Linked DNA regions of Homo sapiens: regions 1, 2 and 4 are each linked to region 3. The links come from fine-mapping of genetic effects on gene expression. A gene starts in region 3. Each other region holds a variant in brackets. All regions are shown on one strand. Distances are from middle to middle.

Region 1 (6,369 bases), 100 kb before region 3:
TTTGAATACTCTTTGTGTGGTTTTCTTTCTGAACACTGTTGGAATAAAATTCTCCATGACTTTCTCATATTTCCCTATGTCTTGTAAGCAGTGTTACTAGCAGATATTTTTCTGGACTATCTTTTGAAGGATGTTTGGATAGCAAGGACCCATGGAAGATGGAGATATTATCTACCTCTGAGGCAGAGTGCAGGTCTGTTTTCTGTGCAATATAATAAAAATAATGTCTCCTTTCAGAGCAAAGATTGGTCAAGTTTGCTTTCAGCCATCTTATAATACATTGGGGTTTCCTAAGCATGAGGTTTCTCAGCTGTGATACTAACACAGTGGGCACAGCATCCACCTTGACCCATCTATACATTGCTCCTGTGGGGCTTAGTGTGGGTAAGAGCAAGGGGAAAAATGAAACTTGAAATTCATGCTACCTGCTGTGCCAAGGGTAATACAATCCTTTGTCTTTGAACAAAAATAAAATTCCATGTCTGCTGGTGACATCCGTGAAACAGTGGCAAGCTAACTTGTTAATTTACAGGTAGAATAAAAATCTCAGATCCTTCATAGTTCTTGATAAACTTCTAAATTTAAAATTAATACTTTTGCACACATGACCTCATCTGCTTTGAGAGAGTGATCTGTATTTGCAATACCTCTTAATATTGCCAGGTTGTCACTATAAATATATGGATTCAGAAGTTTCCTAATTTTAGTATAATAGATTCCCTAAAATGTGACGTTCAAAGAACATGTTTTTTTTTTAACTAATATTATTTTCCAGAAAGAGACTTGGACTTCAGAGGAATCATCTATTCACTTTCAGAGTCTTGTGGACTTTTATATCTTCAGCATTCAGAGATAGAATTAGCAAAAAAGAGGGCTAGTTTGGCCATTCTTATCTGTGTCAACTACAGAGGAACTGTCACCTAGCTCATGTCACTGAAAATTTTTCTTTCTGATTCCTGTTCAGTTCCCTGGAAAGGTATGTATGGTTTGTTTTAAAATGTACATTTCTTCTGTCAAGGCATATATCCACTGCTAAAATATAAAATATCTTTTTAACTGTATTTAACTTTTATTCCCCATATGCCTTGGCAGAATTAGCTAAACCTGCAGATATGAATATTAAGATTGGGTATGAATCATGTAGGTGTCCTATTAGGAGCTTTCACAAATCCTTGAACTGATTCACGTTCAGCCATAAGCATCTCACCTATACTCCTGCTATAGCAGCCTAATTTATCTCTGTATATTAGTCAGGTTCTTCAGAGAAATAGACCACATAGGATACCTATAGATATAGAGGAATATATTCATTTATTAGGAATTGGGTTGCACAATTATGGAGGCTGAGATGTCCCACTATCTGCCATCTGCAAGCTGGTAGGCCATGAAAGCCAGTGGTATAGTTTCAGACCAAGCCTGAAGACCTGAGAACCAGGGATCTGATGGTGTAAGTTATGGTTCGAATCTAAGGCCCAAGAATGAGGAAAGCCAATGTTTGTAGACAGGAGAAGATGGATGACCCTGTTCAAGTAGAGAGAGCAAATTTGTCTTTTCTCTATTTTTTAATTTTGTTTGGACTTTCAATGGATTGGATTATGCCCATCTACATTGGTGAGGGCCACTTTCTTAATCTACTTATTCAAATGCTAATATCTTCCAAAAATTCCTTCATATTAACACCAAGAAATAATGTTTTACCAGCTGTCTGGGCATTCTTTAGCCCTGTCAACTTAACATATAAAATTAACCGCCACATCTTGATTTCACTATTGCCTTCAAACAATCTTCTACAGATAGCCACCAAAGTAATTTCAAACATAAATTGTACCATAAAATATTCTGTAACTAAAATGATTGTTTTGGATATATATTCTCTAACTCTTAAATGGTCCTTAATCAATAAATCTGCACCATACATTAAATCCATTCAGTTAGTTTGGCATACATTTGGAGCATCTACAAGAAAGGAATATTGCTCAAGGTTAAAGATTCTATAAATATTTCACTGAGTTTTTATTTATGGCTGAGGTGAGCATTTGTTTACACCTGCTTTCAAAACTTTCCAAGGTAAAATTATTGCACGTCTGCTCTCTGATTTAAAATTTGTGAGTTTCAATTGCACATTCATTTAGATACTGGGTCAAGCCTCAGATTACATTTTAACAATAACACTAATATTTCCCACAGGTAGCCTCAGCCCAACTCCATGCAGAAAAAGAGTGTTTCTATAAGATGTGTCTTTATCAAGTTTCTCGCTTTTAAATCTTTTTTTACTCCTTTCAAATATCAAACACTAGTTTTACATTTAATCAACAACTCAGAATGCCTGTACTCCAAGTACTTGTCAGAGTATAACCACAAAATCAATACTGATCAATACTTCTCACAAACTATGTTGAATGAAACTATTTATAGATGATTATCTGAATAGGTAAATTCTTATCTGAAGAACAGATAAACTCATTCATCTACTATGAAATATCTCATTGGGTTAAGTATGATTGTCAAAGAACTCTGAAACTTTTGGCTTGACCAAAAACTTACTGTGAAAGAAATTCAATTTGACATTAGGCTATCATTATTTTTTGAGAATTTTTTAAAATAATAAATTGCATTTCAGTAACAGGCATAGCTTAATATTTTGTGTTGACTATGTGCCCAGCACCATTCTAAGAATCATATGCAGCCGGGAGCGGTGGCTCACACCTGTAATTCCAGCACTTTGAGAGGCCAAGGCAGGTGGATCACGAGGTCAGGAGATCAAGACCTTCCCGGCCAACATGGGTGAAATCTCATCTCTACTAAAAATACAAAACTCAGCTTGGCATAGTGGCACATGCCTAGAGTCCCAGCTACTCAGGAGGCTGAGGCAGGAGAATCACTTGAACCCGGGAGGCAGAGGCTGCAGTGAGCCGAGATCGCACCCACTACACCACTCCAGCCTGGCAACAGAGCGAGACTCCATCTCAACAACAACAACAACAACAACAAAAAGAATCGTGCATCAGATTTCATTTACTATTCACAAAAAAAAAAAAAAAAACTTGAGTTATACCCTACTGTTTTCAATATTTTAACAATGAGGAAACTAAACCAACAAAGAATTTTCTCAAGCCCATTCATCTTATAAATGGTGGTAGGAAAATTTGAACCCAATTTAAGATGCCATTCCCTTAATCATTACAGAAACCACTACTGTAGTTAATTTCAGGATGTAACTAAGAAGCGTTTTATTGCATTTATATAGTGCCTCTCCATGAGGACTCATGGAAGGAATAGTTTCTTCATATCAGTAGAAAGAAAAAAAAAGTTATTCTTCTTTGAAGCCAAAATTTCTCCTTAATTTTCTAGAAGTTATAAATTATTTGACTAAAAATTTATTCATTTTTGGATTGCTACTCAAAAGTTTGGACCCACAGTGGTTCATATTGGAGCAATTGATCAATTTTATAAACATACATTTTACATATTAGACTCATCAAATTTCCCTCCTGTTGATATTAAATGTAAATATTTATCAGATATAAATATAAATCAGACACAGCTAATTGGTGGTAGTCAGAAAATCTAAGTTTCTGGTCTCCAAATATTCTTTCTATTGTGCTATCCCCAAATATTTTCTGATGAAGAAAGATAAGGCAAATACAAAAAAAAAA[TA/A]ATAATAAGATGAAACCAGCCTACAAACAGCCGAGTAAACACTAGAGACCACAACATTGGTTTATTGCATGGTTAACTCTGAAAAACTAAAATTCACTAACTGCAACTTTACAGACTGTGTGTGTTTGTGTGTGTGTGTGTGCGTGTACATATCTATAAGGGAAGGAAGGAAAGAAAGGAGGGATGGGGGAACAGAGAGGGGAAGGAATTTATTGTCACCTGTTAAGTAAGAAAAATGATAAATCTTTTCATCTCATTTTGTAGTTAATTTAAACTGGACTTCACTAAAGAAGTCAAAACAAGGCTGGGTATGGTGGCTTACACCTGTAACCCCAACATTTTGGGAGGCCAAGGTGGGAGGGTTGCTTGAGCCCAGGAGTTCAAGACCAGCCTGAGCAACATGGCAAGACCCCTCTCCAACAATTAGAAACTTAGCCAGGTGTGGTGGCATGTGCCTATAGTCCCAGCTACTAGCAGGGGGGTGGGGGTAGGGGCACTGAGGTGGGAAGATCACTTAAGCCCAGGAGGTTAAGGCTGCAGTGGGCGGTGTTCATGCCAATGCACTCCAGCCTGGATGACAGAGCAAGACCCTATCTCAGGGGAAAAAAAAGTTACATAATTATAATATTATACATGCCTAGTTCTTCTGCTAAGAGAATTTCTCTGTTATATACCTACATGACCCTGGTTTCCTCATATAAATCCATACTTCCAGTCACTGGAACTGGACCAAGAGTGAGTACCTGATATCAGGGTAGCCAATCCACCTGTTTGCACATGAGTCATGGCCAGGAAAAAATGAATACATTTACGAATTAGATTTTTTTCTCTGTCAACAAATTGAAGAGGGGATACTGAAAGATTATGTTGGTTAGCAGTGGAGCTATAATTGAATTGTATCATGCAGTTGTGTTAGGCCATAGCAAGCTATAAGTAGACACAGAGTGAGGAGGTTTGTTATTAAGTAAGGCATGAGAGTTTATTTTTTATAGCATGGTCAGGGAAGCTCTTTTTGTGATGGCATTTAAATGAAGATATGATAAGAGTGAGGAGGAGAGGTATAGTGGGTTGACAGTGCCTCCTCCCCCAAAAAAAGTTATGTCCAAGTCCTACCCTGCTACCTAGGAATATGACTTTATTTAGAAATAAGGTCTTTGTAGACATAATTAAGTTAAAATTCTCAAGATGAGATTATCCTGGATTAGGGTGGGCTCTCTACCCTATGACTGATATTCTTATAAGAGAATAGAGAAGGAGATGGGGAGACACAGAGACACAAAAGAAGGTGATATGAAGATGGAGGCAGAGATTAGAGTGACACATCTACAAGCCAAGGCTTGCTGGAAGACACCAGAAACTAGGAGAGATGCTTGGAATGGGTCTCCAAAAAGAGCCACACTGCCAACACTTGACTTTGGACTTCTGACCTCTGAAACTGTGACAAAATAAATTTCTGCTGTTCTCAGTCACCTATTTTGTGGTACTTTATTATAGCATCCCTAGAAAACAAATGCAGTGGGTAAGCCATATACATTTCTGAGGGAAGAACCTGCTTAGCAGGTTGGCTCTGAGTAGGAGAGAAATGGATGGTAGGAGATGTGGCCAGAGATTATGCATGTGAATTTGATATGTCTGTTATAACGCCAAGTCCCTGTAGCCAGGGAATGTTTTTGTTTTTCTGATTTATTTTTATCATGGTAAGTAGGAAGCTCCATAGAGTTCAAGTGGAGTTGATTTTTAAATTTTTGACAAAATATGGAAGTTACTTGTCAGCTTTGTGTATAGGCCCCCATCACCTCAAATGGGCCACATACAGGCAGCTGAGGAAAGCAGTGACACAGAGGAGGCACAGAGAAAGAGGCAGCAAGTCCAGAGAGAGAGATGGTAGAGATGAAAAATGACAAATTAGGAAGAAGCCAGTCCAGATTCTATCAAGGGTTCACATTTTGCTCAGTCAGCCTCAAGTTCTCTGAAATAACTGGTATAACAAAGTAATAGAAAATTGTAATATCTTTCTGGAAAATTCTGATTTACCAGATATGTGAAAATACATTGGTCTATTAACAACTCACTATGAATAAGTTTGTCAGATCAATTTTCCAAGAGCAAGCAACTGATAGAATTAATGGATAGTTAATAGAGGTTTAACCAAAAGCAAGGTTCGTCTCTGAGAAAAGTGAGATGCTAGAGTGAGATTCCATAGCAGATCACCTTCAAGACAGAAAAATGCACAAGAGCATCTATCCAGGAGGCCTCAAGAGTAGATAAGGAAAGATGAAAGAATTTAAGCTTTAAACATCAGGAAAGAATTGGAACAATGAGCTCCACTGATCAGTTCGTTTGTCCGTCTCTTTCATGTGTCTCTCTATAGATCTCCCTGTTTTATGACCTCTCCACAGACAAGCTTCATTTCCTTCACTGTCCATGCAATAAAACAACCAACCAATAATGCATGGGACTCCTGTATTACAATCTTGGAACCAAGGAAAAAATGACTTCCATTTTCACCTGTATTTCCAGGGAATGGCCTCAGTTACTCAAATGGTCTCATCTCTGGCCCTATCAACCATGGAAATGAATAAAATTACATAACAATAATAGTTCAATTCTCACTGCAACTATATGAATGAATGGGGAGATGATTTCTGAAGAAATTTTTAACCAATAACACAATAGGTAGGTATTAGATAATATAATATAAATAGCAAATAT
Region 2 (6,369 bases), 25 kb before region 3:
TATGTGTGAATATGGCAAATATCTTGAAGGTGTTATACAAATAACTGACATTTGGCAAGCACTGAAAATAGTCTATTTTTAAACAAAATGCTGATCATGCTTTGTATATAGTTTTGTATTTGTACTTATGTTTCATGAGCATTTTCCTGTTTTACTAAATATTTGGAAGCATTTTAATGGATAGTTAAGTACATAAATCATAATTTATTTAAACATTTCCTTATTAACACTTAGATTATTTCTAGTCATTTATATTTTTACCATTTAAATTACTAATTTACCAAGCCACAAATATATCAAACTGAAAAACTGAAAAACTGAAAAATTTCTGATTTGTGAATAAAAGAGCATTTGATGGAGTTTTAACTCTATTTTCCCATGTAACCCTTCAGATTTCATCCCAAATAATAGATTCCTTGACTACAAGGAATCCTCACTATCCACAAATTTTAATTCCAGTTTTAAGGAGATTCATTTAACATGGCCATTTTCTAGTCCTCATTAAGTCCCAGATAAATCCCTGTACTAATCTAATTTTGTCACAATTAGGTTTTTATCAGATTTTTATATCTTGGTGAATATTTAATAAGATATTTAATAACAGCCAGTATCTCTATGACCAGGCACTATTCTAAATGCATTTTACTTATTGATTTACTTATCACAAAAATGTTATGAAATGGGTATTCATAGTCCCATTTTTAAATTAATAGGCTTAACAGACAGAGACGTTAAGCTACTTACCCAAAGTCATACAGCACATATTTGGGCAGAGCTGGGTAATAGAAATCAAAATCAGGCTGATCTCTGGAGTATGCAGGCTTTTGTCTATTCTATTATACTGCCTCCCAGAATAAACTCTAGGTATGATACCATCTACATCAAAACCATATTTCCATCTGCTTTTTTCCCATATGATAATCACTGCTTCCAAAAAAGGTATATCGACATATGTTAGATAATTTAAAATAGAAGGGTGGTAGATGTTTATATGTATTTAGTTCTTTTAGTTCATCTAATTGTAAGCTCTTCTGAAAAATTTTGAAACAGACCATTCGTGAGAGGATAGCTGCACTGCATCAAGAGGACACAGTATTTTCCACTTTGGAGCTGTCTGTATTTCTGAAGAGGTTTCAGGGTATCAGCCTGTTAGGATACCTCCTTCAATATGAAGACAGAATTTAGACATTCTGGGCTACATATGGGCCTCATTTTACAGCATTTTAGTAAAGGGTAGAGAAATTGAATATTCTTAAATAAACACATTTCAAATGTAGTTTGTATACTTTTCATACCTCCATTGAGTTACTAGTATATCAAAATACTGGAGGATGTAAATTCCTATAATTGTCATCCATAACTCTTCAAATTCCATTCACATCACTACCCTTTCTTCTGTCATCACTAAAAAGTGCTGACCAGAATCTTAAAGGGTTTTATTTAGTGCCTAGATAAGATCTAGGTTAACTAGATCCAAAACAATAAAAATTGTCAGTAAATGCAAGTTTATTTCAATATATACCTATATAACGGTATATACCTTTTGAAAGATACAAGTTAATCACAAGACAACAAGTTTAGTACGTGGGGATTTGTTTTATTCATTCTCGCTTTTCATTTTTGCTTTTTAAATAGAACAGCTTTGATTTTTAGTATATGACATCATCATCATGAATTTTTTTCTCTTACTTTGTATTTAGGCTCCACCTCAGTAGTTTGACAAAGGTAGAATGAGTTCATTTTGAGTCAAAACCATAAAAGTTACTTTGTATAGACATTGGTTAGAATCTGTGACATTTAACCTTTCTTCTGGTAACGTTTCAGGAAGTCTGGTGCATTTTTATCAGAAGAATTATTTCTGTTTGACTTAAGTAGCAATTATTTATTTATATAAAATTCGTATGTAGAAAGTTGTCAGTTTTTACCTAAAGTCACAGTAAATATTTGACTTAATATCTAAAAAGCAATTAATAGAATTTTCAAAATAATTATTTCTAGTTTGGAAGCAGTCCTATTTGATGTATAAAAGATATATCCAATGTAAAGAAAAAAATTTTATAAAGGAGTTGAATTTTTAATATTTACTGATATTTTAATTTGCATGTATTTTAAAGCTCTGTGTATTCTTTCCGTAATCAAAGTTGTTAGCAAATGACAGATGAATACTATTTAAGTAGAAAAACGATCCTCTACAAAGTGATACTCTGGAAAATGTTGCATCTTCTAAATCATACAGCTGATATTACCCTTATCTTTGTTGTCCCCTCTCCTACTGGACATGAAGTTTCAGGTGACCTTCAAGTAGGCTGTTGAGCAGTTGCAGGACTAGTGAATGGAATGCTTCCCCCTTCCCTCCTTTAGAGTCCCATTCTTATGGTTAGAATTTCTCCTACTACACAAACACTTCCCAGTACTCTTTGCTTGTCCCTTAAAAGTGGGTCTTTCTCAAAGCTGGGATTTTAGAGTCCTTTTTGCAGCCTTTCTGACAAGGAACATCTGTTTACTAACAAGCAACCTATCTCTCCAATCCAGTAATCCCATTTCCTGCAAAACCGCATTAAGTGCCTTTCCCCACCCTCCCATGTTCTTAATACCTGGAAAACTTAACTCATTTCTTTACCCTCCAAAATATAAAATCTCTGGTTCATTAACTGGGTCAGTCTTTTTAGAACTTTTTTCTCCCCAAAGAAATATAGTACTGAGGCATTAAAACAGGAGTAACTGGAAGATCAGCTATTTCCCAAGCAGCTTCCATAGCTAAGAGCAGTCTGCAAGTATATGTACCAATTACAAAATGAAAGTTATAATCTACCGGATTTAAAATCGTAATTTCTATTCTGAATTAAATGATTTAATACAGGTTGTTTTCTGTCTTGTTTTAGTAACCCTCCCTCAGTGTAGAATTTGTAATCAACCTTTGTCATAAATACACATGCCAAACTATTGGAAAGTAATTTACCAGA[C/T]GAATGGATAGGGTAATGTATTAAGAGTGAGACAGCAGTTCTGAGCCCCTGGCTGGAGTCTAGTAGAGGAACTGCCAGAGGATCAATATCAACATAGACTTTTAGATATAATTAAAACCTATTATCTAAGTCAGTATTCAAATTTGTCATGCTTAATCTCTTTGAAGACAAGAAATGCTCTTCTGGTTACTCCCAAAGTACCTGTACACATTCTAGATCTGCACTGTTACATAATTATAAATTGGTATTTGCTAGGTAGATAAAACTTAAGACATTCTGAAACATTTCTATTTGTACTTTTTCAATAAACTTGACTATATCAAGATGGGAACTAAACAGGCTTACTGTGTCTTATAAAAAATACTTTGTTGTCTAAAGTAAATGAGATAGTTCAAAATTAATAAAAACAACTAGAACTGTGCTTTTTTTCTTTAAGGTCTAATGCATGTGCACAATAAACTTGTGGATCCACTATTCAGTATGAAAGATGGAAACTGAAGGAGACTGGAGCAAAATTCAGCTTGAATGAACAGAGCACTTTTTACTAAGTAGTAGATGAATTTTCAGCTATGCAATATGACAAAACATGGGGAATTTTGAAGATTGTCATTTTTTCATTCGAGTCTCTATGTTAAACATTCCATATTTTGAATATTTATATCTTGTACTTGGGTTTAAGAGAAGTAGCTGGCTCTCAAGATTGACTGGCTATTTATTATAAAGTACTGAAGTCACATAGCCACCTATAAAACAGCATAGAAATGTCTGCCTGTTTAAAAAGTCATTTTAAAGGTAGAGTGTCCACATCAGGCACCATTTGTGATATGACTCCAGTGGCGTATATTTCATTTTTTAATGACAAGACACTCCAAACCTTTCAGATAACAAACTATCATTGCAGACCTTCACTTTTGGAATGCAATCTTTATATTTTCTGTGCATCACACACATGCTTTTCTGCACGTGGTTGCCTTAGTCATCTTCCTACAGCACCATCTAGACATCAAAAATTGTGCTATATATCATTGGTAAAGGAAATTTGAAGAGATGACAGTGCCTAAAAGTACAGTTTACATCCTTTTGGAAAGTATGTGTAAGTGCATGTTTTTTGTGCACCTTCTTCTATAGCACTTTTTTACAAATATCTTATTTTTATTTAACGACTTGGGTTCATGTCCCTAATATAAGTATCTTGACAATTATGAGCTTTATACCTAGCAAGCCACTTCAGGAAATTCTTTTGGAGAATATTTTCTGATTATTGTTAAACTTAATATACAATTAGCTTTATTCCTTATAAAATGTCTAAAAGAATAATACGAAGTATATATAAAAGGAATTACTGTAAACTACATTGCCATAGCAATTTACATAAAAGTATATTGTTTTTTATCTTTAACTCAAATAAAGCGTGTAATAAATAAGTTATCTAAATTTCCAGAAGTGAACCTGAAGAATACATGCATTCGACTCCCAACAATTATAGTACATGTGAACCTGCATTCATTTTGGGTTTGTTACCATCATGCATTAGGAGAGTTAGGTTAAAAGATGTCTTTGCCTCTGTGGGGAGCAAAAAAATGCTCCTTTTGCTTATTTTGCATTTCATAAGCCCACCTGGTAGAAGAAGCCTTACTTATCTGCTTGTCTATGTGATTAAAATGTAGTTTCTTAAAATATTAAAATAGCAAATAAATTAATGAAATAAAATTGGTAATAGGGTTTTATGGTTAAAAGTGGGGGATGGGGTAAATTATGCTGCTTTAATTCCAGATGATGTTTTAATAGCCTTATAAATGTTTTTTAAATAACTAGTGAGTAACACTCCACTTACACTTCCAGTAATAAGAATCATTTACTACAAACTATGCTGACTACCTTAGAAAGTCATACAGCATCACAGTGAAAAAGCTAAAGGTACCTGTTGTGCTACATGATTCACCAGTAATTTCTCTGCTTTAAAGGTCTAAAAATTCTCCTTTCCATTTTCCTTCCCTTGATGTTAGGGGCTTAGTTGAGGTTCATGTACTCAAGCTCCTCCACAAGCTGAGGAGCGAAAACTCTGGCCATTTTCATTCCTGCTTTCATTCCCTAAATTGAGGAGCTAAGCTGCTGTTAGGCAAAGAACCTAGCTTTTTCAAGAAACCAACCACTGAATCCCAGCTCTGTCAGGGAAATAAAAAAGTCTCAGCTACTTCCCCAAAATTTTTACATAGATTGAATAAGGGAAGCATACATAGCTCAGCACAGTGGTTGTCACATATTAAAGTCAATAAACGGTGCTATTTTAATATTGATAACAGTGTTTAAACATATTTCAGTGTTTGCTAAAATCTTAGTAATATTAAGTCCTCTGAGGAATGCACTTATAAAGCACACAACTCCAAATCACTAAAGTCATCTGACTGGGAAAGCGGGAAGGGGAAAGAAATTAAGCTTACAGAAAATGCTTTTTTGTACTACAACTAAAACTATAACTAAAACTACTTTTTTGTACTACTATAACTAAAGAGTCATAGGTTAAAAAAAGGTAAAATTAGTCTGAATAAAAAAGACTAAGACTGGTAAATTATTAAATAGCAAGCACATAGTACATATTACGTTCCAAGAACCAATTTGTAACTTATCCTTTGGCAGTGATAGAACAGAACACTTTTACAATTTTTTAATTTCAAATACTGTCATTTTCAAAATACTACTGTCATGGTCTTTCAGATTTCATCTGTTTTTATCAGAACCTGGAAGAGGGAGGGAAGATACATAAGATGATAATGTATGTATCTAGGACTATATCACAGGCTACTTCTACACATGATTTTAAGTAAATCTCCACTTAATTTATAATTAAAATGATTTCACAATAACTGTAAGCTCAAAATATCTGAGACAGCTCTCAAGTCAGTTTAGAAAGTTTATTTTCCCAGGGTTAAGGTGTGCCCATGACACAGCCTCAGGAGGTCCTCACCACATGTGCCCAAGGTGGTTGGGGCACAGCTTGGTTTTACACATTTTAGAGAGACATGAGACATCAATCAGTATGTGTAAGGTGTACATTGGTCTTGAAAGGCAGGACAACTTGAAGAGGGGCGGGGGCTTCAAGCATAGGCAGGTAAGAGAGAAAGGGTTGCATTTTTTTGAGTTTCTGATTAGCCTTTCACTGAATATACAATTTACATGTGAGAGGAGAGTAGAGGAATAGTCAGTTATACCTTAATCTGGCTTAGTGAAACATGAAACAGAGAAAGCAATCATTTATGCATTTGTTTCATGTGAAGACTTTGAGTTCTTTGTCCATAAGGAATTCCCTTGTGAGCAAATTTTATCTTTGTGGCTGTCTTATTTAGGAATAAAATGGGAGGCAGGTTTGCCTCAATCAGTTCCCAGCTTGACTTCCCTTTGGCTTAGT
Region 3 (5,000 bases):
TCAAGTTTTTCCTAGAAAGGGGAAATACCACATTTAGGAGTATAAATTTGGCATACTATCAAACAAGTATACCAATTCAAAGAATATTCTTTTAATCGTTGAACAATATCATTTCTAGCATTTATATTGTTTATATTATTATTCTAAGAAAAAGACATGTATGGCTAAGTTCATATTACAAGGAACATCAGTTTAATAGCCAAAGGTAACTATACAGCTAAATCATAATCCCTTAACATTTCTACACAATTTTTAGGGCCAATCAGGAACTGAATTTATTATCGTGAATGGAGAACATGAGACACCTAGAACTTCTAAAGGCCTGAGAATACCTTGTCTAGTAAAACTTTTGAGGCAATGGAGCTACAGAAAAGCTGAAAGAAGATAAATTTTCTGCTCCTATCACACATTTAATCAGGAATCAGATTTATTTAAAAATCTGTGTCTCTAATGGAGCCTCAAAATTTTATTTTAAATACAATTTTGCTACTTTGCAGCTTCTCTGGTGAGAAAGAAAAAAAGATGACATCCAACAAAAGACTTATCACTTAAAACTTAAAAATATTTTAAAATGGAACTCCTGGTTTTTCGTGTACACATCTTCTTTAACGTTTTACTGAAACACATCACAAATTGCTAGAAATTGTTATCAAGCAAAATATACCAGTTTTTTGTACTCTATTTTTTTCCAATCAACTGCATATTTCACAATCAGCAAAACCATGAAATTACAATGAAATATAAAATTCACGTGAGCTTTGTTTTTTAATAGCCCCATAAAGACAGATAATAAAAGCACAATTATAGCTGAAAGTCTGCCGAAAAAAAACTAATTCTGATGTTTGCCCTGTAGATTTTCTTTCCCTTCAGTTCAAAAGGTATAGAGAATTGCACCATCTTTATACTTCGAATTGCAATATAAATCCATTTTTAAAAACACAGGCATATTAGGGCCAAAGTTGATTAATTTAAGGTTTTGTCTTTCTGCCTACTTATAGCTTGCCTTCAGTCACTTCACTTTTCTGACTAAAATGTATCCATTCACAATTATCAGAGTTGTTGAACCTCCCACCCTCTCCCACCAGAGTCAAAATTACACAGGTTTGCTCTGGCTGAGGTAGAATGAAATAAAACTACAAAGACAGACCGAGAACTTCCTGCATTCTAGGTATTAGTCTAAAAAAGTCCACTTCTCACATCACACAAATCTCACAAATTAGCCACTGGATGTTTGATCAGTTCTGCATTCAACAAATGAAGTAGGAGAGTGACAATGTAGTAACTTGCCCAGGCCACATAGCTACTTAATTTGCAGGAAAATGGACGTTATATTAATATTTACTAGCAACTTGCTTAGTAGGCTTTTTAGAATTAAATAGATGAATAAACGCAAAGCACTTCGACCAGTGGCTCGCGTAAACAAATCAACATTTGACATTGAAAATGAGAAAACCTACAAAGTTAGTGACTTGCCCAAGGTCACACTAGTGAGGAGTGGAGGGTCGGGAACCTGAGCAGTGCTCACACTCTCCGCTCTGCCTCCCTGTACCAAGTTGCAAGCAGGGTTCAGAGCTAGTCCCAGAAAGCCCTATACATGTCCAAGATCGCATGGGGCACTCCAACGTTTGAAAACTTGGCTAAATCAGATTCCAGGGGGCAGTCACCTTGAATTCTGCGGAGCTGTAGAGCCTGTCGGTAGCCCAGGACTCTGGAGCAGCCCCAAGGGTCGGCGCGGACCGGGGCCCCGGGGCCACCAGAAGCGCGGCCCCAGTGGCTCGTGGCGCGAGAGCGCGTGCGCACCCCCAGCCCCGACCCACGAGGGTCCACATGACCCGGGCGGCGGAGGCGTCAGGAGAGGGTACCCACACGCAACAGCAGCATAGCCCGTTTTTTTTCGAAGGTACCCCCCGTAGGATCCGGTGGACAGGACTCAAACAGATCCTGTGAAGCGAAGACAATGAACCCCGGGGAGCTCTGCCCAAGTACCAGATCCGGAAGCAACCCGAAGCGGCGGCGCAGCTTGCCGACGTCTGCACGCCGCACGCTGTCGTGACATCAGCGCGTCTTGGCGCCGGGTAGTGGAGTGGTCACGTGAGTGGAGGCTTTCGATTGACTCCCTAAAACGCAGGGTGTAGACAGAGTACATATTAGCTTATATTGTCTGCTGAGTGCTGTGCCAATTCCTTTGCATTGTCTCTTTCTTACTACTGCCCTGTGGTGTGTGTACTGTCAGTTCCCCCAAACTACCTCTGGAAATCCGGACCGAGTGACTTGCCCAGGAGCTCACAGGTGGGGAGCTGTGGAGCCTGGAGTGCCGCCCAGGCAGTCTGATTCCCGAACCAGGAGCCGAGGTCTTAGTCCAGGGACTTAAAGATGCTATTATTAGCACAACGTTGAGACTTAGCCTTCTACCTAATGGCAAAATAATAATGGCACTTTTAAAATCTGGAGGTCGAAATGTATTCCCCATGTTGTCAGTGACAGAGCTAATCTTGAAGTGCATCTGAAAGGAAACGGGCCATAACATTGATTGCAATACTGAATCCAGGAAGGTTTTGGCAAGAAGTAAAGGTGGGAAAAAGTTCCATGCTGGACCCCCAATGTTTCCATCGTCATCAAGTTACCACTTCATGGAATGAGCTCTGACGAAGTAAGAATGGGGGATAAAACAGGTGATAGGAGGATTGCATCCAGTGTTTGTCTCCCACTATTTCTCTTGCGCTTTTCTGGAATATCCAGAATTTGGTGCGAAGGAGGGAGATGACAGCTGTGTTCAGTTCATCATTGTGACTGAAGACAGAATCATTCGTATTGTTTCCAGAGCCTTTGAAAGTTTCTTCATTTGGAGGATTTCTTAGGATCAAGAATTCTGTACCAGACTCAGTTCTTTCTTGGATTTTTTTTTCCCCCCTGAGATGGTGTCTCGCTCTGTCGCCCAGGCTGGAGTACAGTAGCGCTATCTCGGCTCACTGCAACCTCCGCCTCCTGGGCTCAAGCGATTCTCCTGCCTCAGTCTCCTGAGTAGCTGGGATTACAGGCGCGCGCCAGCAATCATGGCTAATTTTTGTATTTTTAGTAGAGACGGGGTTTCACCATGTTGGTCACGCTGATCTCGAACTCCTGACCTCGTGATCTGCCCACCTCGGCCTCCCAAAGTGTTGCGATTACAGGCGTGAGCCACCGCGCCTGGCCCTTTCTTGGAACTTTTATGAATTAAAACAGTACTTGATAGACGACTAATTCTGTCACACTTGTAAGAGAATGAATTTAACAACTATCTTGAAGTAAACACAATAATTTATATTCAATGTTGCCCAGACTTCCATAATTTGCACAATTACCCTCATTAATTTTCACCATATCCTGTCAAAGATAAAGGCAGACACCAGTTAAAGTGGTGAAGACAGATTTTTATTATAGTGATATACTAATGCAATCGGGAATAAGATCCAGAATGAACTAAACTACAATTTGTCCAGAGGCGACTGTATTTTAAAAGGAGAATGCGGGAGTAGGGAAAGAGAACAACTGGGCTTGATCAAAGTCAGGGAAACGGAAATTTACAAAAAACAATGGCGGAAGAATGGTCCATTTGAAATCCATCTGGGTTGTAAACTGTTGCTTATGGAAATAAGGCTCCTACCCTTCCCGCAGACACTAGGAAATGAGTGCTACTTTCACATGTTGGCTGGAACAAATAAATTATTTTGTCAGTCTTGAGCTTTCTCAGACAGAAATTTAAGGGGGCTTCATCTTAGAGATGCAGCCTTGAGCTGTTATAAACTATATGAGTTTGTTCAAGTCTTTTAATGTGTGGGCAAACCGGTAGGGGAAGGATGTGGATGAAATCATTTGTGCTGAGGGTCTGTAGTTTTTATAGGCAAGTTTGAGGCTTTGCTGATAAGAGGGCTTAGAAGAGTCAGGCTAGAGTTTGGTCAAGAATCTTTGTCAATCCTCATACCGATATTATGTACTTTATATTTTTCTTTAACTTACCTTTATATGTAAATGAATTCTTTTTAAAAGAAAACGTAGATACCATTAATGGAGAAAGCATGATGAGCTGTCATAAGAGTAACAGTAAATATAACTGTAGTGAATAAAAAATGTGATTCAATTGTAGGTTTGGTCTGTCTGGATTACAAAAGGGAGATTAGCAGATATTAGAAAAGAATTTAAAAATATTAGCCTCAAACTGAGATTTTTCTCTTTGACCTAGCAAGAAGCATTTAAATAGGGTTGAAAGAAAAACTTTATCTGAATAACACAGTATCCTTGATACCATGTCTGTATCTATCTTGGTGCCTCCACAGGAATTTGTCCCACACTTTAGAAAACTGCAGTATCTTATAAGGCTGACATTATGTTTCCCAGCCTACAAATGGAAAAACATATTTGTTAGAAAAATACTGAGCTCCACTGTGTCAGGTTATATACTAGCTGTGGAAACTCAAACAAATTAAGCAAAATGTCTAAAATTACATGATAGATAAATTACATGATAGATAAATGCAAAAAAAAATTTGAATCCAAATTTTTGGAAACTAAAGCTCATCTCTTGCAATATCTTTGCACAAGTTTCTTTATTATTCAACTTGAGAAGAAGCAGGAGGTATAGTGACTGAACTTCAAAGAGGAGGTATCTTTCATGTGCTTCGAAGGATAGGCAGTTTTTTGTTTTTATCCAAGGAAATAAATGGAACTTAAGCAGAGGAATAATCAACAGCATAACACATTTTCTCAGTTCCCAGTACTATTCTACATACTTTGTATCAATTCATTCGATCTTCACAGAGCCCTCTATTGCTGGCACTCTTATTATCTCTGTTTCATAGATTTCCAAGAAAAATGTGGCCAACGTTTTTTAAATAACTGTCTAGAGTCACAGTTAGTGATGAACTAGGGCTGTGAGTCCACACAGTCCAGCTGTAGAGCCTGCACCCTTAACCACTCCAGTAAACTCGGCTCAGCTGAGCAAGGATACAAATGCGGAAAAACAC
Region 4 (6,369 bases), 210 kb after region 3:
AAATTTGTTTGATTAAATTTTTAGTTTGGCTATACCTTCTAGCTACTAAGTGACCCTTTTTATTTATTCACTTTTTGTTTATTTAAATACGTCATAATGTTAGGAGTATTTTCCAGAAAGATACAGCTTTCTAATTCACATTTCTATAAGTGTTCATGGATATTTGTTGGTCAAAAATGTTTTTATATTTTAGTTTTTGTGGGTACATAGGAAGTGTATATATGAGGTACACGTAATGTTTGTACACCGGCATGTAATGCATAACAATCATATCATGTAAAATGGGGTATCCATCCCCTCAAGGGAAAAAAGCCTTTGTGCTACAAGCAATTCAATTATACCCTTTTAGTTATTTTAAAATGGACAATTAGATTATTTTTGACTACACTCACCCTGTTGTGCTATCAAATACTAGGTCTTAGTCATTCTTTCTAATTTTTTTTGTACCCATTAACCATTCTCACCTCCCTCGACTTTCCCACTATCCTTCCCAGCCTCTGGTAACCATTCTTCTGCACTCTTATCTCCATAGGTTAAATTGTCTTGATTTTTAGATCCTACAGATAAATGAGAATATGAGATGTTTGTCTTTCTGTGCCTGGCTTATTTTATTTAACATAATGACCTCCAGTTCCATTCATGTTGTTACAAATGGCTGAATCTCATTGTTTTTTATGGTCAAATAGTATCCCATTGTGTATAAGTACCATATTTTCTTTATCCATTCATCTGTTGATGGATGCTTGGGTTGCTTCTAAATCTTGGCTATTGTGAACAGTGCTGCAAAAGACATGGGAGTACAGATGCCTCTTTGATATACTGATTTTCTTTCTTTGGGGTATATACCCAGCAGTGGAATTGCTGGAGCATATGACAGCTCTATTTTTAGTTTTTCACAGGACCTCCAAACTGTTCTCCATAGTGGTTGTACTAATTTACATTTCCACCAACAGTAAATGAGGATTCCCTTTTCTCCACATCTTCTCTACCGTTTGTTATTGCCTGTCTTTTGGATATAAGCCATTTGAACTAGGGTGAGATGATATCTCACTGTCATTTTGTTTTGCATTTCTCTGATGATCTGTGATGTTGAGCACCTTTTCATCTGTCTGCCATCTGTGCCTTCTATTGAGAAATGTCTATTCAAACCTTTTGCTTATTTTAAAATTGGATTGTTATTTTTTTCCTACAGAGTTTGTTTTAGCTTCTTATATATTCTAGTTATTAATACTTTGTCAGATTAGCAGTTTGCAAATATTCTCTCTGATAAAGTGGGTTGTCTCTTCACTTTGTTTATTGTTTCCTTTGCTTTGCAGAAGCTTTTCAACTTTATGTGATCTCATTTGTCCATTTTTGCTTTGGTTGTCTGTGCTTGTGGGGTATTACTGAAGAAATCTTTGCCCACACCAATATCCTGGAGAGTTTCACCAGTGTTTTCTTGGAGTAGTTTCATAGTTTGAGGTCTTAGATTTAAGTCTTTAATCCATTTGTATTTTATTTTTGTATAATGCTAGAGATAGGGATTAAGTTTCATTCTTCTGCATATGGATATCCAATTTTCCCACAATATTTATTGAAAAGACTATCTTTTCCCCAGTATATGTTCTTGGCACCTTTGTTCTTGAGTTCACTGTAGGTTCATGGATTTGTTTCTTGGTTCTCTATTTTGTTCCATTGGTCTTGATGTCTGTTTTTATGACAGTGTCATGCCGTTTTGATTACTATAGCTCTGTAGTATAATTTGAAGTCAGGTAATGTGATTCCTCCATTTGTGTTCTTTTGGCTTAGGATAGATTTGGCTATTCTGGGTCTTCTGGGGTTCCATATATATTTTAGCATATTTTTTCTATTTCTGTGAAAAATATCATTGGTATTTTGATAGAGATTACATTGAATCTGTATATTGCTTTGGGTAGTATAGACATTTTAACAGTATTAATTCTTCCAATCCATGAACATAGAGTGTATTTCCATTTATTTGGTGTCTTCTTCAATTTCTTTCATCCATGTTGTATAGTTTTCATTATAGAAAGCTTTCACTTCCTTGGTTAAATTAATTTCCAGGTATTTAATTTTATTTGTGGCTATTGTAAATGGTATTACTTTTTTATATCTTTTTTCAGATTGATCCCTGTTGGCATATAGAAACACAACTAAATTTTGTACATTGATTTTGCATCCTGCCACTTTACTGAATTTATCAGTTCTAAAAATTTTTTGGTGGCATCTTTAGGCTTTTTTCAAATATAAGATCATATCATCAAGGATAATATACAAGCAAACAGGGATTATTTGACTTCTTCCTTTCCAATTTGGATGCCTTTTATTTCTTTCTGTTGTCTGATTGTTCTAGCTAGGGCTTCCAGTACTATGTTGGATAACAGTGGTGAAAGTGAGCATCCTTGTTATGTTTCAGATCTTAAAGTAAATGCTTTCATTTTTTCCCATTCAGTATGATACTAGCTATGTGTATGTAATTTATGACTTTTATTATGTTGAGGTAAATTCCTTTATACACAGTTTTTTGAGGGTTTTTAACACGAAGAAATGTTGAATTTTATCAAATGCTTTTTCAGCATCAATTGAAATGATCTTATGGTTTTTATCCTTCATTCTGTTGATATGATGTATC[A/G]CACTGATTGATTTGCATATGTTGAACCATCCTTGCATCCCATGGATAAATCTCACTTGGTCATGATAAATGACCTTTTTAATGTATCACTGGATTTGGCTTGCCAGTACTTTGCTGAAGACTTATGAATCAAAAGTCATCAGAAATATTGGCCAGTAGTTTTCTTTTTTTGATGTGTCTGTGTCTGGTTTTGTTATTAGGGTAATAGTGGCTTTGTAGAATAAGTTTGAATGTATCTGCTTCTCTTCTATTTTTCAAAATAGTTTGAGTAGGATTGGTATTAGTTCTTCTTTAAATGGTATAATTCAGCAGTGAAGCCTTTGGGTCCCAGGGTTTTGTTTACTGGGAGAATTTTTATTATGGCTTTGATCTTGTTACTTGTTATTGGTCTGTTCAGGTTTTGGATTTATTCATGGTTCAATCTAGGTAGGTTATATGTGTCTAGAAATTTGTTCATTTCTTCTAGATTTTCCAATTTGGGCATACAGTTGCTTATAGTTGCCACTAATTGTCCAGGGATATTTGTAACTAGAGATGTATCAGTTATAAATTCACCTAGCTCTGTTTCACGTATATGTGGTCAAGATACTGATTTGGTTGGTGGTAAAATCCGTTGATAGATTACTAATTTACAGTAAAATACAGTTTATTTTGAAGTTATATTCTAATTCAACAAATCATATAATTGTTTAAAGAATTACTTATGGCCTTAAAGGGAAAGGAAACCCTTAAGGTAACATTTAAGGGAGAAAAAGTAACTCAGTGTTTTAGTAGGAAAAAGCAAGAATTCCAGCTATATCAAGCAGCACTGATTATTCATTCATAAATGTTAGAAGACCAAGGGACAAAGACAGAAACACATAACATTTTCACCTCATGAGGACAAAGAGCTTAAAAGTCCTAACTAAAGAAGCAGCATATCTGTTGCTTAACAGATATGTCAATGGTTAAGAAAATGGGAAGAACTTTAAAAGGTTTTGATATATTTCTGGGATATCAATTCACACACATATAAACACACACACACACACACACACATACACACACACACACACACACTCATGAGGAAATGCAGCCCTTCCTTATTTTAAAAAAAGCACTAATTTTCTAGGCAAAGGGGGCTAATATCTAGACCAAAATTAATGAATTAATTAAAATCTCTCTCCTCCATGTTTAGGTAGGAAGAATCTATGTTAGATACACTCAATAAAAAGCAGGACCATGATGACAGACAGAAAGGGCACTAAAGCAACAACAAAAAAAGATACAGCATCAACTTCAAACGAAATGGCTTCTGTGATGGAGAGGTACCTATTATGCAGGGTAGAAACAGTATGATTCTAAGACCATTGAAGGGAGAAGACAAGGGGAAAATATGAGACTGTAATATTGTAAAACTTTAATAAAGAAAGGATGAATCTAAAATAATTAAGGTGCATCTCAGCCCACAATGTGCTCCACCACCACAGGAGGTCATGCGACAGATGAAGAGAGGAGGCTAAGAAGGCGTGTTAAGGCACTTGTAGACAGACTCTGACCTTTACAGCTTGGCATTTCAATAGCTACTATTAAAGTGCCTTTTAAAATGCTCTTTTAATTATGTTCATATACAAAGCCATTCTAAATAACACATATTATTCTATAATGTGTTTCTAAAATGTAGTTTAAATGTACATTTTGAAGTGCTGCACTGCAACTGGAGAATACTGGAAAAAATATTTTCTGTAATAGATAATAGAGCTTCCAGGTCAGTTTTTGTGGTAAATTAGGAAGGGTTTAGATATTTTTAAGGTTTTCAAAAACTTCTTGAAATGTCTTCAGACTAAGATAAAAATAAATTATGTCAAACATCCCTTTTAGTAAGGGGAGGATTTGCACACACAAAAAAATAATAACTGGGAGATTCCCTGAAGTCTTGTCCAAATTGCATTGCATTGCCTAAGATGCAATCAGAAGAGAAGAGACATTATATCCCACACAAAAATCAGGCTCACTGAAAATAGAAAATTGAATTATAAGTGACAAGAGGAAGATCATTAAACATGTAAATTGTCACTTTAAGAATAAGGTGAAATTCAATCTAAAAGTAATGAAAGTACATCAAAGAAGCAAAGACTGTATAGATAAGGAATAGAAACTCGGACTTCAAATGGGAGGGTAAAAAGATTATTCGTTGATGTTGATTTGTTTTGGTTTTTGAAAAGCATATTCTATTTTAAACATTAGTTTTAAATGTGATAAGAAATTACCTAATAGTAATTCTTATTATTACTTAAAATAATAAATAAATATATTAGAAAACACTGATAATTATGCCCACAGGATAAATATATAAACCTTTGTTAGATTCAGCAAGAATAAGGAAAGAATGGAGCTGCATTCATTGGTAGACTACCAACTAGCCTGATGCAGCTACAAAGCACTTTAAATGTGGCTAGTCCAAGTTGAGATGTGCTGTAAAGGTAAAATATCCACAGCATTTCACAGGCTTAGTACAGAAAAAATATAAGCTATTTTAATAATGTTTTATATTGATCATATGTTGAAATGATAATGTTTTGGATATATTGAGCTAAATAAAATGTATTATTAATTTCACCTGTGTGTAGTAAGGAATTTAATCTTGCCCAAAGAGAAGTTTGGCCTTTGTGTTCAGCTCTTGGGAGGTTATCTTATTCGGCTCTTAGGAGGTTATCTAAGCCCTTGTAATGTCTTGCCTGTTAAGAGTATTTTCGTTTACCTGAAAGTCCTGGGCTATAGGAGATGTATTAGTCCAGTTTTGTATGGCTATTAAGATACTACCTGAGACCAGGTAATTTGTAAATAAAAGAGATGTAATTGACTCACAGTTCTGCATGGCTGGGGAAGCCTTGGGAAACTTAAAATCATGGCAGAAGGCAAATGGGAAGCAAGGCATGTCTTACACGGCAGCAGGAGAGAGAGAGAGCCAGAGGAAAATGCCACTTTTAAACCATCGGATCTTGTAAGAACTCCCTATCATAAGAACAGCATGAGGGAACCATCCCCATGATCCAATCACCTCCCACCATGTCCCTCCCTTCACACATGGGGATTACAATTCGAGATCAGATTTGAGTGGGGACACAGAGCCAAACTATGTCACAGACAGTATAATAATATCATTCATAAGGGGGCTCTGAGTCATATGGGATCAGCTGAAACTTGAGAGGGTCTGGAGACTGAGATCAGTCACTTGGGCAGCCAACCATGTGTATATGACTAAGTTCCAATGAAACTCTGGATGCTGAGTGTCAGAGGAGCTTCCCTATTTGCCAATACTCTGTGTATATTCTCATACCCTGATGCTGGGAATGTTGATACTGTCCCTGACTCTACTAGGAGAGGGCAACTGGAAGCTCCAGGGATGAAATGTTCCTGGACTGTGCCCCATGTATCTGATCCCTTGGCTGACTGCACCATTTGCTAGCTGTGTGAACTTTGTCAAGTCATCTAATTTACTGTGCATCAGTTTAATTCTGAGTGGAGATGATAAGAATACTTAGAGGATTCCTGTGAGGATTAAATGGCTTATTATATCCAAAGTGCTTACAACAGTGCCTGGCACATGCTATGCAGGAATAAAATACAGTCATTGTTGCCACTGAGTATGTGAAGATGTATAAATGATATCACTGTCCATCTAGTTGTCACTAACTCCTCCCCCTTATCTTTTTTCTTTTTAACCAGTAGGATGATTATATCACTCTTTTTTTCTA

The links. PIP is the estimated chance that this variant, and not a neighbour inherited with it, causes the effect. A credible set is the group of variants that fine-mapping cannot tell apart.
Region 1: its variant is the best candidate, but not a certain one, in a credible set for the expression of GUF1 in adrenal gland (GTEx, PIP 0.77).
Region 2: its variant is the best candidate, but not a certain one, in a credible set for the expression of GUF1 in whole blood (TOPMed, PIP 0.76).
Region 4: its variant is the best candidate, but not a certain one, in a credible set for the expression of GUF1 in whole blood (TOPMed, PIP 0.86).

Annotation. Positions count from the first base shown.
Region 1 is chr4:44,778,543-44,784,911 of GRCh38, reverse strand. No RefSeq gene overlaps it. Among named protein-coding and RNA genes, the nearest start is that of GNPDA2, 55 kb to the right of the region's middle. The variant TA/A (reference allele first, on the strand shown) is at 3,657.
Region 2 is chr4:44,700,173-44,706,541 of GRCh38, reverse strand. GUF1 (GTP binding elongation factor GUF1) reads right to left here. Exons shown (of 17, transcript NM_021927.3): 17 at 5,614-6,369. GNPDA2 (glucosamine-6-phosphate deaminase 2) reads left to right here. Exons shown (of 7, transcript NM_138335.3): 7 at 3,400-4,747. The coding sequence ends at 3,461. Among named protein-coding and RNA genes, the nearest start is that of GNPDA2, 23 kb to the left of the region's middle. The variant C/T (reference allele first, on the strand shown) is at 2,964.
Region 3 is chr4:44,675,452-44,680,451 of GRCh38, reverse strand. It overlaps GUF1 (GTP binding elongation factor GUF1), which reads right to left and starts at 2,032. Exons shown (of 17, transcript NM_021927.3): 1 at 1,665-2,032; 2 at 1-11. The coding sequence starts at 1,829. RefSeq lists a silencer at 1,694-1,853 and an enhancer at 1,925-2,813.
Region 4 is chr4:44,462,000-44,468,368 of GRCh38, reverse strand. No RefSeq gene overlaps it. Among named protein-coding and RNA genes, the nearest start is that of KCTD8, 16 kb to the right of the region's middle. The variant A/G (reference allele first, on the strand shown) is at 2,633.